Linked DNA regions of Homo sapiens. The protein of the gene in region 1 interacts with the protein of each later gene in a pairwise test. Each region holds a gene or a part of one and is shown in the gene's direction. Other genes may lie near its edges.

Region 1 (9,306 bases):
GCAGGCCAGTCGCCAGTCCGCGTAGTTTTGTTTCCTTTCCATCATGCAGAAAATTAATCAGCCCGGACGAGAAGCAGAGAGGAGCATGGCGGCCTGTAATTAAGGGACGTGTGCCCCTCGGATTATCTCGTTAGTTTATCAAGAAAACATTTATTATAATTAATTCTCGGACGAGGTAATTATTGTTGAGCGAGGACACAGCAACTGGTAGATGGGCTTCTTGGAAGAAAAAAAAAACAAGGCGTGGGGGAGGGAGAAGCGACAGATTGCACGAATTGACCGTTAGATATAAGGCTGCGCGGGGGGCGCGGGCAGTGGAGCGGGACCTCGGGCGCCAGGCCTGCGGGGCTGCGGGGCTGCGGGGCTGCGGGGCTGCGGGGCTGCCGGGCAGGAACGCGGGACCCAGGCACTCGCGCCCGGAGGTGCGGTCGCCGACCGGCTGCCGGAACTCGCCGCGCGACCGCGGTCAGCTTCTAGGTATGAGTTCTCCAGAGGCCACCTCGTGAGCAGTCATAGTGAGGCGTGGATTTTTCAAAAGTTATTTCTTTTCCCCGTTCTGGACCCTGCTTCGAGAGGAAAAGAGCTTTGAAAGTTAGATTGAAGGGCCCATGCCTTCTATGCAGAGTGCATACCTAGGCCGGTTGTGGAGAGAATCTCTTAGTTTTGGGTTTTGGTTTTCCTCTTTTCCTTTTAAAGGTGGATCCAGGAGCAAAAGTGAAAATAGTCTATTTTGAGAATTTTAGCCATTTTGCAATGGTAAGGGCAAAGGAGCCCCTGGAAGGATCTCGGCCCTGGTGCTTTCTGTGTGTTACTGGCTTTTTATGTTGGAATGTGCTACTTTATTGTATGATGTGTCAGGCATTTCTAATTGGGTGAGAGCTCTACATGTAAGAACATTTCCATATTTCTCAAGGGTACATCTGATATGATTTTACGATTCTCTATAGCACTGTAGTTCAGAATTTTGCAAGGTAGTACGATTAAACAAAAAATCTCCAATCTCCAGTTTAGAGGCTGTTTAAACACATATACAACTGTATTTTAAAGCTGTCGCATATGTGTTTAAACAGCCTCTAAGCTGGAGATTTTTGTTTATTTTCGCAGCCTCCAAAGAACAGCATTTTGAAAAGAAAAGACAATACAAAAACATAAAGTCTGTATTGTAGGGGCAACTAAATTAGTTGTACTGAGGATAATACAAACTCCTCCAAGAAAGACATTTATAAAATTATATTAAGTTAGATCTTAGGGTAGAAAAGCATGACTTTTGTGCTCTGAATTTAAATCAGAAAGAAGTTGCAGTTACTAAGTTTCATTTATGGACTTTTGTGCCTTGCTGTCTTAAGCAACGTAAATATGAAAACCCGGAGTCCTTTAAAGTCAGTGAGACCTTTATCTTGTATCCGCCATTTTGAAGCAATCTCTCATGGTGTCAAAGTTTCAAAGTAGAGATCCTTGCATATAAGTGCCACATTTTAGGAAAATAAAGGCCAGACTTGCAAACTGCCAGTCTATATTAACATCTACTTTGAATCTCTTTGCTGGGGTGGAGGCGGGGAGCTCAGCTGAAGAAAGTAAATAACTTTTCTTTTTCTTCCTTTCTTTTCCCCCTTGAGCTCTTTTTCTTATAGGATTGTAGGAAACTTGAAAGGTAGGGAGAAATTCTACTAGTTTCACAACTTTGGGTGTTTGTGTATCTACTTTCTTCAAAACTAAAATGTGCAAAAGGCAGTTAGAGTTAACAGGAAACTCTGCTGCAGCTGCCGAGGACCCAAATGTCTGAAAATTTGCCTCCCGCAGGATCTGCAGCCTCCACACATCAAAATCAACATGGAAGCAGCTTGCACTACAAATGTGGGGTCCCGTCATTATCTGATTGGTGGGATTCTAACTTTACTTCACAATTTCTGGCAAGCCCTGTGCCAATCTTGAAGACTTTTTTGGAATATGCTTAAATATTTGATGGGTGTCTATTAAAAGTTAAATACTTGTTTGTTTAGCTTTCGTTCCTTAGACACATATAATCAAGATTCTCCAAAACCCTAATAAATCTGTTACTTACCTCGAAATCTAATTACCCAGACTACTAATTAGGTGAAAATGATTACCGGAAATGACTTCAAATGTGGAATAATAGTGGTTGAGCGGTTTTTCCAAGTTTGTGGTTTAGTGAGTTGGTATTTTAGATGTTAAACGCACTGACATTTTAGGTTCGCAGCAGTTGAAAGTGGTAAAAAGCTAAGATAATTAAAATCTCTGCCATGGAAAGGCAACAGTCTGGGGAGAGGTAGATTTCTTGAATTGTTTCTTTGTTTCTCACCAATGGGCTTTGTTATCAGCATTATTTATTTAGCCAAAGAGTTCTTTGTCTCTGCAAATGGCCCCAATCAAGTTTTGTTTGAGACAATTAGCTAGTGCCAGCCAATGAGTCCTATGCAAATGTAGGGATAGGAATGCAATGTGTGCATTTGAAGGCACGGGTTTTTGTTCTTGGGGAAGGCAGATTGTAATTGCTTTCTTCGGGTACTTTTTTTTTTTTTTTAAGTTTAGGGTGGGGGTGGGGAAGACAGGTTTATCTGGTCTCCTTCCATCCCCTCTAGTTCCAGAGCAGCTGGGGGTGGGGGTGGGGATGGGGGTGGGGGGAGTGTCTGCAAGTCCTTTAAAAGCCTCTGCCTCGCCTAGTCCGTGCTCTTTTTAAGTTAGTGCTGGAACGTGGAAGAGCTGCTGCCTCCGAAGCAGTAAACCAGCCCCTCTGTTTGTTTGTTTGCTTTGCCCTTAGTTCCACTGCTCCAAACCCACCCACCAAGGACTCTGAACCTGTCCACCCCGGGCGCATCAAGATCTTCCAGCTGGGTACCCCCGATTTGGGCCGACTTTGCACCTCCAAACAACCTTAGCATGATGTCTTATCTTAAGCAACCGCCTTACGCAGTCAATGGGCTGAGTCTGACCACTTCGGGTATGGACTTGCTGCACCCCTCCGTGGGCTACCCGGGTAAGTGAGCCCTGCTGCACTCCCGCACCCCTCTTCCCCATGCCCACCCTCCGGGGATGCAACACCCTGTTCCCATGGAACACGGGGGTTGGCAGTCACACTGTCCCCACCCAGCTTCAGGCTTGGTCTCCTCTAGGTTTGCCTTCTGAGGAAGCAGTCCCAGGGCATTTACTGACCAAGCAGAGAACAGGGGTTGGGAAAAGTGAGTAGGTGGGTCTGCAACCGTTACAATCACATCACTTTATTCTTAATTCGAGTAAATAAGGATTGGCATCAGAGTGGGATGAGGAAGGTTACTGTCCTTGTCATTTGGGCAAAAGACCCCTACCCATATCTCAATGACCAATTCCTCAGAAGTGTCCTCTTGGAGAAGCTGAGTTTTCCCTCCGTAAGTCCTTAGCACTCTCGGGCTTCGCAGTTGTTCCCTCCATGCCCAGGCCTTCCCCTATGACCTCCAGAGCCTGCTTTAATCCCAAGAGGCGTGACTTCCTCCAAATGCGGGTGCTTTCCTTTCCAATCAGATATGTTTAAAAATCCTCCCAGGAGTATGAACTATGTCCCCATTTTAAAGATGGAGGAACAAAGGCCCATGGTGTGCTAAAAACCATGGGAACAGGATCCAGATTTCCCCCATCAATTCGAGCTGCCAGTCTGTCCTCGGAGATCCTTTGACTTCTTGGAATAGCCTTTTTGTGTTGTGGTTTGGGGGTTGATCTTGGAGAACTTTTTTGTGTGTCTTTTAAAAAATGTTTCATTTGTTAACTTTCCAAGTGATGCTCTGATTGGAGCAATCTCAACACCAAGAAGAGTAGGGAAAGAAGCAGCGTGTGTCCTGGGTCCCCGGGGAGCAAGGCTGGGGAGACGGTGGGGAGAGCATTGGTAGGCTCCCGGCTGAAGGGCTGTGAGGAACGGGGGACTGCTGCGGGGTGGAGGGCAGGGGCGTCGGAGAACCCGCGGAAACGCCTATGACTGAGAAACTGCTCCCCCACCCTAAAGGGCCCTGGGCTTCTTGTCCCGCAGCCACCCCCCGGAAACAGCGCCGGGAGAGGACGACGTTCACTCGGGCGCAGCTAGATGTGCTGGAAGCACTGTTTGCCAAGACCCGGTACCCAGACATCTTCATGCGAGAGGAGGTGGCACTGAAAATCAACTTGCCCGAGTCGAGGGTGCAGGTAGGGCAGATGCAGGCAGAACCATCCTTCCTGATCATGCCACCCTTCCCGAGTATGGGACTGTGGAGAGCCCCAGGTCTTTCAGAGGACTGAAGGAAGGCTTGAAATTCTCCTTCACTCACTAAGGGGCCAGGAAACTATTCTCCTTCTGCCCTTTTTTGCCTGCCCGTCACCACTTAATCCCGTAAGCAAGGGTCTTCAAGGCCCGGGTTGCTGGTGGAGAGAGACCCATCCTTGAGCAGGTTTCAAGAGTAGTCACGTGGTGTTGTAACCCTTCCCTTCCTCTGTATAGAAATCCTCTCCTATTCTCATGGACTTGTACGTGTGAAAGCAGCTTAGCTCTTGGACAGTCCAAGTATTTTTACAGATGAAAAAATAGAGTAAATGACTTGCTCAAGGTCATAACTAAGTTTGGTGGCAGAGTCAGGGTATAGACGCAGCTGGTGCTTTTACCAAATAAATCAACACAAAAAGAATGTATTTTCCTTGACTTCTTAGGGATTGAAGAGAATTTTCTAGTTCTGAGCCATTTAACAGATAAAATATCTACATAATGTCTCTAGTGACACCCCTCTTGTTTTAGTTCCCCTAAACTTGACCTTAAACTGGAGAGGGAAGGTCAACTCCAGCTTGCCTTGTGAGTGAGCCCTGTACAGAATTCTCTGCAAAGTGTTTAGCACATAAACCACATACACACCTGGGCCTCTCCTTCGGCTAGAATATGTTTATGAAAGCGACAGACATCAGTGTCAGCTGCAAATTGGGAAAGGGGCTTTTTCAAAGTAGGTTAGAGGAAGTTTTAGCACTTGCAAGGCTTGAACCAAAGTCCTCACTAGGAGAAAACAAATGGCTCCAAATGGTTGGTGGTCTTGAGCTTGGCCTTGGTGGCCTCACTTTTACCACAGTTACGGCACCCATACAGAGAGCTCATTCAAAAGTTCAGCTAAGGATTTGTCCTCCAGAAAATGCCAGTAGTTCCTCTTCTAAGCCCCCTCGTACACCAATCATAGCTCCTTCATTGCAGAACATGAACAGGGCTGGTAAAGAGAATTGTCAAGATTGCAGCAGGGGGTTGAAGTGGTAAGTCAGTAAACACAGCACAGGAGACTGAGTCTATGTGCTGAGTGGCACTACTCTAACAACACAGACTCGAGTCCCAGAGACTAGCAGGTCTGTGCTCCAGCTCAAAGCAGAGTGCATGTAAGTCACTCCTTTTACCACAAAGAAGCTTTTAGCAAATAGTGGCTTTCAGACCTCTTTCTTCAACAAGATCATGTCTTCCCCTTGGAGCTTTGTTCTGTGAGTCTTTCTAAGAGAGACAGAAGGGTGATGGAACCAACCAACCTCTATATTAGCAGTTGCTTCCTGGAAGATGAACTGTAAATGAATTTAGGCTGTTCCTGTTAGCCTGTAACAACAGAATTGCTTTCTCTCACTTCTCATGTATTTCCCTCCAAAAGACAGAGATACATTCTATTCCTCTGTGAGAGTGTTCCAAAATATAGCTGGGTCTATGTGTATGTGTGTGTTAGAGGCGAAATAAGATAGGAAAGTGATGTGGAGAGTTTTTAGCTATATGATTTGGGGGATTATCTTAAATGTTATTCTGGGCAAGAAATAAGACAGTGTCAAGTGTTTTTAGACAGAGCCTCCCCAACTTTCTTACAAGTCCAGGAGTTTATATGAGAGTACCACATAATAGGTCTTCAGTGGCAGGGGAAATTGTGTGTTTAGCTGATCTGCCCATGTAGGATAGATTTATAATACGGGAGCCATTCTTGTCCTTAAGGAACTATCAAAACCGAGTTAAAGAATTTTCTTTCCCTTCCAAGGTATGGTTTAAGAATCGAAGAGCTAAGTGCCGCCAACAACAGCAACAACAGCAGAATGGAGGTCAAAACAAAGTGAGACCTGCCAAAAAGAAGACATCTCCAGCTCGGGAAGTGAGTTCAGAGAGTGGAACAAGTGGCCAATTCACTCCCCCCTCTAGCACCTCAGTCCCGACCATTGCCAGCAGCAGTGCTCCTGTGTCTATCTGGAGCCCAGCTTCCATCTCCCCACTGTCAGATCCCTTGTCCACCTCCTCTTCCTGCATGCAGAGGTCCTATCCCATGACCTATACTCAGGCTTCAGGTTATAGTCAAGGATATGCTGGCTCAACTTCCTACTTTGGGGGCATGGACTGTGGATCATATTTGACCCCTATGCATCACCAGCTTCCCGGACCAGGGGCCACACTCAGTCCCATGGGTACCAATGCAGTCACCAGCCATCTCAATCAGTCCCCAGCTTCTCTTTCCACCCAGGGATATGGAGCTTCAAGCTTGGGTTTTAACTCAACCACTGATTGCTTGGATTATAAGGACCAAACTGCCTCCTGGAAGCTTAACTTCAATGCTGACTGCTTGGATTATAAAGATCAGACATCCTCGTGGAAATTCCAGGTTTTGTGAAGACCTGTAGAACCTCTTTTTGTGGGTGATTTTTAAATATACTGGGCTGGACATTCCAGTTTTAGCCAGGCATTGGTTAAAAGAGTTAGATGGGATGATGCTCAGACTCATCTGATCAAAGTTCCGAGAGGCATAGAAGGAAAAACGAAGGGCCTTAGAGGGGCCTACAAACCAGCAACATGAAATGGACAAACCAATCTGCTTAAGATCCTGTCATAGTTTTAGATCATTGGTTATCCTGATTTGCAAAGTGATCAAAAGCATTCTAGCCATGTGCAACCAAACACCACCAAAAATAAAATCAAACAAAACTAAGTTGTGAAGGAAGGGAGGGAAGGTCATAGCCTTCTTAAGCAGAGGTGTTCCATTGTTTTAGCCAATCCTTGGTTGAATCTTAGGAATGAACAGTGTCTCAAGCTCATTCACGTTTCATGACCAACTGGTAGTTGGCACTGAAAAAACTTTTCAGGGCTGTGTGAATTGTGTGACTGATTGTCCTAGATGCACTACTTTATTTAAAAAATAATGTTCATAAGGAGTCAATATGTAGTTTAAGAGACAATCAGTGTGTGTCTTATAAATGGTACATCTGTGGTTTTTAATCTGTGCTAGACTTCAAAACTGTGATCTCCTGTTATTGTATGCAACCTTGAACTCCACCTCTGCAGGGGTTCTTCTGTGATTAAATAGGTTATAATTATAAGCAAAATTCAGAGCAACTGAGTACTGATCTAAAAAGATTACCTTTGGCTGGAGGTGAGCTGCACTGAAACTTTACGACAAAATGTCTCTGGACAAAGAGAGTCAGAGAAGAGAAGCAAAAGGACACTAATTCATCTGTAATTTACTGTTGGTAAGCCTAGCAGTAAAGAGACATTGGTCAATTGCTCTGACCCTGATGAATTATTAAACTGAGATCATTGTCGTTTATGCTTGCAGATGTTAAATGGAAAAGTTATATATGCATAAACCTTTTCTTCCTGGATTTGGCAGATATGTATAATTATATTAAAATGGTTCTAGCACAACATTGGGTCCAGTTTAATTTTACACCGCTATTTATGAATAAGAAGCCTACATTCAGCCTTTCCTCCCCAAAACACGTTTTTCTTAGGACAGAGAGTAAATTAGCAAACTTATTTTTACTTTTTTTTTTTGCTAATCTATGCATAAAATAGATATGAATGACAGTGGTAGGTAGACTTTTTGTGACTTTCATCAGGATTGCTCTGAAATTGAGTTTGGAGAGCCTAACAACAAGATCTTGTTTTCCTTGCTTTTCCCTCCCTACTTCAAACCTGAACGATTTCTTAGGCACTTTATTAGAATGTTTTAAAATATATCAAGTTTTTAAGAGGGAGGAGGAGAATTGGAGTATCTCTGAAAACATGAGAATGACAAGAATTTCTTGTTACTATTCTCTTATTTGATTAAGGGGATTTTTTTTTTTTAACTTCCAAAAACTGAGGTAAACATGAGAGGGAGTGTAATCAGAATCTGAAAGTAATTCAGGCAGAAATGATTCCTGAACAAAAGAGTTTCAGAAAAGTTTTAAAACCTATAATTTCAGTAGTTGAACATAAGGCACCCTGGTCAGTTTGTGTGTATGTGTTTAAGAAAGTGCCGAGGGGGAAAAAATGGGTCCCTTTTCAGTTGTACCTGCATTTTGTAAACCAGTCACCAGAAAAGACAAATGGGCCAATGATCATGGTGCTCCTCAGGTAAAAGCAATATTTAATTTCATTTTAAGCTGCTTAAGCTCTTACAGCTGACCAAAATTAAGTGACTCTTGATTGTAACGTTTTAAATGAAGGTTAGCAGTTGCAACCATTTTGTTTTCTGGCTATTTCATTTTTCCGGTCCCTGGCTGCGCATGCTCTCTTGAACTCTGTAATTTTTCCTAATAAGTAAATTGGTTCGCTGGTAAAGGAAATGCAATAGTTTGCAACCAAAATTTGAGGCCAAATTTGATGGCAAGAGTTTTCAGCACCTATTGATAACCTTCAACATACTGTAGTTTACACGAAGTTAAATTGGGGCCTGAGGTTTACCCAGATTCAGTGTCTTAATCTCCCAGCTTTTCTTCTGCAACAGTAATGCAGAATCAAAATAACCATTTTCTACCATTGCCTTCAGTTTTCAGGATGTCCCGCAAGGGGCAGGGAAAGATTACCCCTTCTTTAAAAACAATAATGACGATAAACATTGGGCTACTCAGCAAATAACGCAGTTGGCAGTTTCTCTCCTGAAACTTTAAAAAAAAGGTCAGAAAGAAGAGGCACTGAGCACCCTCTGAAACTAATTTTTCCATCACCTCTGCACAACTTCTCTTAACTAAGACCACGCAGTTAAATCCCTTTGAATCAAAGGCGAAGTAGAAATGAATTCCTCTGACCGAAGGCAACGGAGGGAGGGAAGGAGGCGGGGAGCGAACACTGGCTTAAAGACATCCAGAGAGTTCCGATCTCCACTCCTAGTCAAGACCGGTTTTAATGAAGTTAATAAGCCCAATAATGGTGATACTTGGTACTGAAATGACGCCGTCCTCCAAAGAGGTCAGGGAGCTACTTCAGCTGCGTATCGGCAATTAACAAGAAGTGAGCCGGCAGTATAAGCTTCGGTTTGGAGGTCAGGTCCTGATGAGGGTGGGGGTAGTTTGCTTTACAAAGATCTGTTGCCCCAAATC
Region 2 (3,579 bases), on another chromosome or scaffold:
GTGGAAGGCCTGATGCCCAGCAGGTGCCGCGTGAACAGTGGCTGTTGGTACAGTTTCATATCCATCTATGGGTTCAACAAGCAATGCTTGAGTTCCTGCTGTATTCCCATGCCAGACCCCGTCAATTCCTCCTGTTCTCAGCCTGAGATCACAGAGCCTGCATTGGAACTAGGTCTGGCTTGGCTTGGCTTTATTTTTTTTTAATTCTTTGAGATGGAGTCTCGCTCTGTTGCCCAGGCTGGAGTGCAATGGCACGATCTCAGCTCACTGCAACCTCCACCTCCCGGGTTGAAGCAATTCTCCTGCCTCAGCCTCCTGAGTAGCTGGGATTACAGGCGCCCGCCACTACACCCAGCTAATTTTTTGTATTTTTAGTAGAGACAGGGTTTCACCATGTTGGCCAGGCTGGTCTCAACTCCTGATCTCATGATTTGCCCGCCTCGGCCTCCCAAAGTGCTGGGATTACAGACATGCGCCACCGTGCCCGGGCATTTTTTGTGTTTTTAGTAGAGATGGGGTTTCCTCATGTTGGCCAGACTGGTCTCGAACTCCTGACCGTGAGCAATCTGCCCTCAGCCTCCCAAAGTGCTGGGATTATAGGCTTGAGTCACCACGACTGGCCTTGGCTTGGCTTTTGCTAAAGGCTTTATCTGAGAAATGTTCAGGGGGTACTTTTTTTTTTTTTTGAGACGGAGTCTCACTCTGTTGCCCAGGCTGGAGTGCAGTGGCGCAAGCTCCGCCTCCCAGGTTCACTCCATTCTCCTGCCTCAGCCTCCCGAGTAGCTGGAACTACAGGTGCTCGCCACCATGCCCGGCTAATTTTTTGTATTTTTTGGTAGAGACGGGGTTTCACCATGTTAGCCAGGATAGTCTCGATCTCTTGACCTTATGATCCACTCGCCTCGGCCTCCCAAAGTGCTGGGATTATAGGCGTAAACCACTGCGCCCAGCCTTTTTTTTTTTTTTTTGAGATGGAGTCTCACTCTGTCACCCAGGCTGGAGTGCAGTGGCGCGATCTCGGCTCACTGCAAGCTCCGCCTTCTGAGCTCAAGCGATTCTCCTGCCTCAGCCTCCAGAGTAGCTGGGACTACAGGTGTGCACCACCATGCCCAGCTAATTTTTGTATTTTTAGTAGAGATGGAGTTTTACCATGTTGGCCAAGCTGGTCTTGAACTCCTGACCTCAGGGGATCCACCTGCCTCCGCCTCCCAAAGTTCTGGGATTACAGGTGTAAGCCATCACTGGGCGTGGTGGTGTATGCCTGTAATCCCAGCTACTTGGGAGGCTGAGGCAGGAGAATTGCTTGAACCTGGGAGGCGGAGGTTGTAGTGAGCCGAGATCACGCCATTGCACTCCAGCCTGGGCGACAAGAGCGAAACTCCTTCTCAAAAACAAACAAACAAACAAAAGAAATGAGGGCAGAAGCTAGGCCCCTGTGGGGTGTGCATTTTATTCCTGGTGTGTTGGGCGCCCTAGGATGGCTCTGGGCAGAAGAGGGACATGAAGGTGGTCAGACTCTGGATGCCTCGGGCAGGACTGGTGATTTGTTGGGGCCCCCAACCCTGCCCACCCTTTCCTGGCAGGACCTGGAGACCCGCAATGCGGAGTTGGAGCACCAGCTGCGGGCGATGGAGCGCAGCCTGGAGGAGGCACGGGCAGAGCGGGAGCGGGCGCGGGCTGAGGTGGGCCGGGCAGCGCAGCTGCTGGACGTCAGCCTGTTTGAGCTGAGTGAGCTGCGTGAGGGCCTGGCCCGCCTGGCTGAGGCTGCGCCCTGAGCCGGGGCTGGTTTTCTATGAACGATTCCGGCCTGGGATGCGGGCCAGGCTGCAGGCGGCATAGTTGGGCCCATTCGTCCTGGAAAGGGACTGGGGGGTCCCAACTTAGCCCTGGGTGGGCCGGGCCGGGCTGGGCTGGGGTGGGCCCCAGTCGGCTCTGGTTGTTGGCAGCTTTGGGGCTGTTTTTGAGCTTCTCATTGTGTAGAATTTCTAGATCCCCCGATTACATTTCTAAGCGTGGCTGTGTGTGTGTGGTATGTGGGTATCTGGGCACTTAACATGTCGCCGGCGCCTTTCCCTGCGTCTTTTTGGGTGCCCCTGAATCCATGTAGCAGTTATAAGCCGCTTGCAGATGAGGGGTGAGGCTTGGAGTCCGAGGGGGGTCCAGGCCACACAGCCAGGAAGCTGGCTCTGGTGTCTCTCTGCCTGTCCCCTTGGGCTTAGCCCACATTGTCTGGCCAAATTTGGACTTTCATGGCCCCTTCACTCTGGCCACAAACCCCAGATGTGGCCAGGTGGGTGGCCAGGGAAGCTTATAGCTGCACCCATTCGGCACAGGACTGACCTCACCAAAGCCTCACAGCTGCCTCTGGAGAGCAGGGCAGTTGCTATGCCCATTCTCCAGATGAGGAAACTGGAAGCCCAGAGAAGGGGCTTCAGGGCCCAAAATCCCATGGCCATTCGAGCAGCTGGTGTCTGCAAAACTTTGGGCCTGCCTGGTGGAAATGGACATGGTGTTCTGGGCAGACACCTGAGAAACAACAGCGGCTGCACCCCACCTCTCCTGTCCCCCTGCTCTTCGAAAGTCAGACTGAGGAAGTCAAAAGACCCGTTTATTAAGCACCTCCTGTATGCGGCACCCCTGGGGGGTGACCTTGGGTTGGGGTCACAACCTCCCGGTCATGTTCTTTCTTCCCCTGCAGCCTGAATCTTGGCCAGGGCTCAGGGAAGGGACCAGCCAGTGGTTTCGGGGCAGAGGAGCAGGGCCCGCACAACACGAGCGCCCACGGGTTCTGCTGTGGGGCACTGGGTAGGCCCCCGGGAAGGGCTGCTGCCCCCAAGGAAGGTTCCTCCGACCCTCAGCTCCATGGACGAGTCAAGGACTGGGCAGATGGCCGTGTGGGGCTCAGACCAGGCCCTGGGAGGGGACTGGGCCTGAGTGGGACCCAGACGGTGTCCTGGGTGGACGCCCCTTGTGGCCAGCCCTGCCAGCCTTCTGTCGCTTCAGCGTCTCCTCCACCTTCTCCTTGAAGCGCCGGTTCTTCTGCTTGATCTTGGCCAGCTCAGCCTTGCGCTTGGCCTCCAGGTCAGGGTCCTGGCACAGGGAGGACCAGGGGATGGCTGAGCTGGCGGCCCCCGCCAGGGAACCTGGCCACCCACCCCCTACCTGCGGGCTCGGCCCTCACCTTCCCCTCCAGGATCAGCTGCTTCCGTTTGTTGATCTCCTTCTTTTCGTCAAAGTGGGCCGCCTCCAGTTTCTGGTGGAGGGAAGTGGGGTAAGGAGATGCTGGTCACGGGGGCCCCACCTGGAAGGGAGCACCCCCGGCCCTGGAGAGCACTTTAGTTCCTGCCCGCCTCTGACACTCACGATCTCACACTCTCTTCGCACCACGTTGACCTGTGTGAGGATCTGTAGCACCTCGGCCTCTTCCACGGAGAACTCCTCCAGCTTCTTCTCTGTGGGGACAGCAAAGCCGGGGGTGGGGGTGGGGAGGAGACGTGACATGGAGAGGGAGTTCAGCCAAGTAGTGAGTTCCCCATGCTGTGGGGTATGCAAGGCCATCTGGGGCCATATCAGGTAAGG

Evidence for each region. The genes of interacting proteins can lie anywhere in the genome.
Region 2: the proteins of OTX2 (region 1) and HOMER3 interact in binary tests that used the Homo sapiens proteins (3 or more experiments, as listed by UniProt).

What each region holds. Positions count from the first base shown.
Region 1 is NC_000014.9:56,799,049-56,808,354, reverse strand, and holds the end of OTX2 (homeobox protein OTX2), read left to right. Parts: intron 1-2,687; exon of another isoform or gene 2,688-2,779; 5' UTR 2,780-2,898; coding exon 2,899-2,995; intron 2,996-3,991; coding exon 3,992-4,167; intron 4,168-5,999; coding exon 6,000-6,620; 3' UTR 6,621-8,450; downstream 8,451-9,306. UniProt on the Homo sapiens protein: Transcription factor probably involved in the development of the brain and the sense organs. Can bind to the bicoid/BCD target sequence (BTS): 5'-TCTAATCCC-3'.
Region 2 is NC_000019.10:18,927,639-18,931,217, reverse strand, and holds the end of HOMER3 (homer protein homolog 3), read left to right. Parts: intron 1-1,583; coding exon 1,584-1,775; 3' UTR 1,776-2,015; downstream 2,016-3,579. Other genes in the region: probable ATP-dependent RNA helicase DDX49, read right to left, coding at 2,902-3,090, 3,182-3,253, 3,364-3,452. UniProt on the Homo sapiens protein: Postsynaptic density scaffolding protein. Binds and cross-links cytoplasmic regions of GRM1, GRM5, ITPR1, DNM3, RYR1, RYR2, SHANK1 and SHANK3.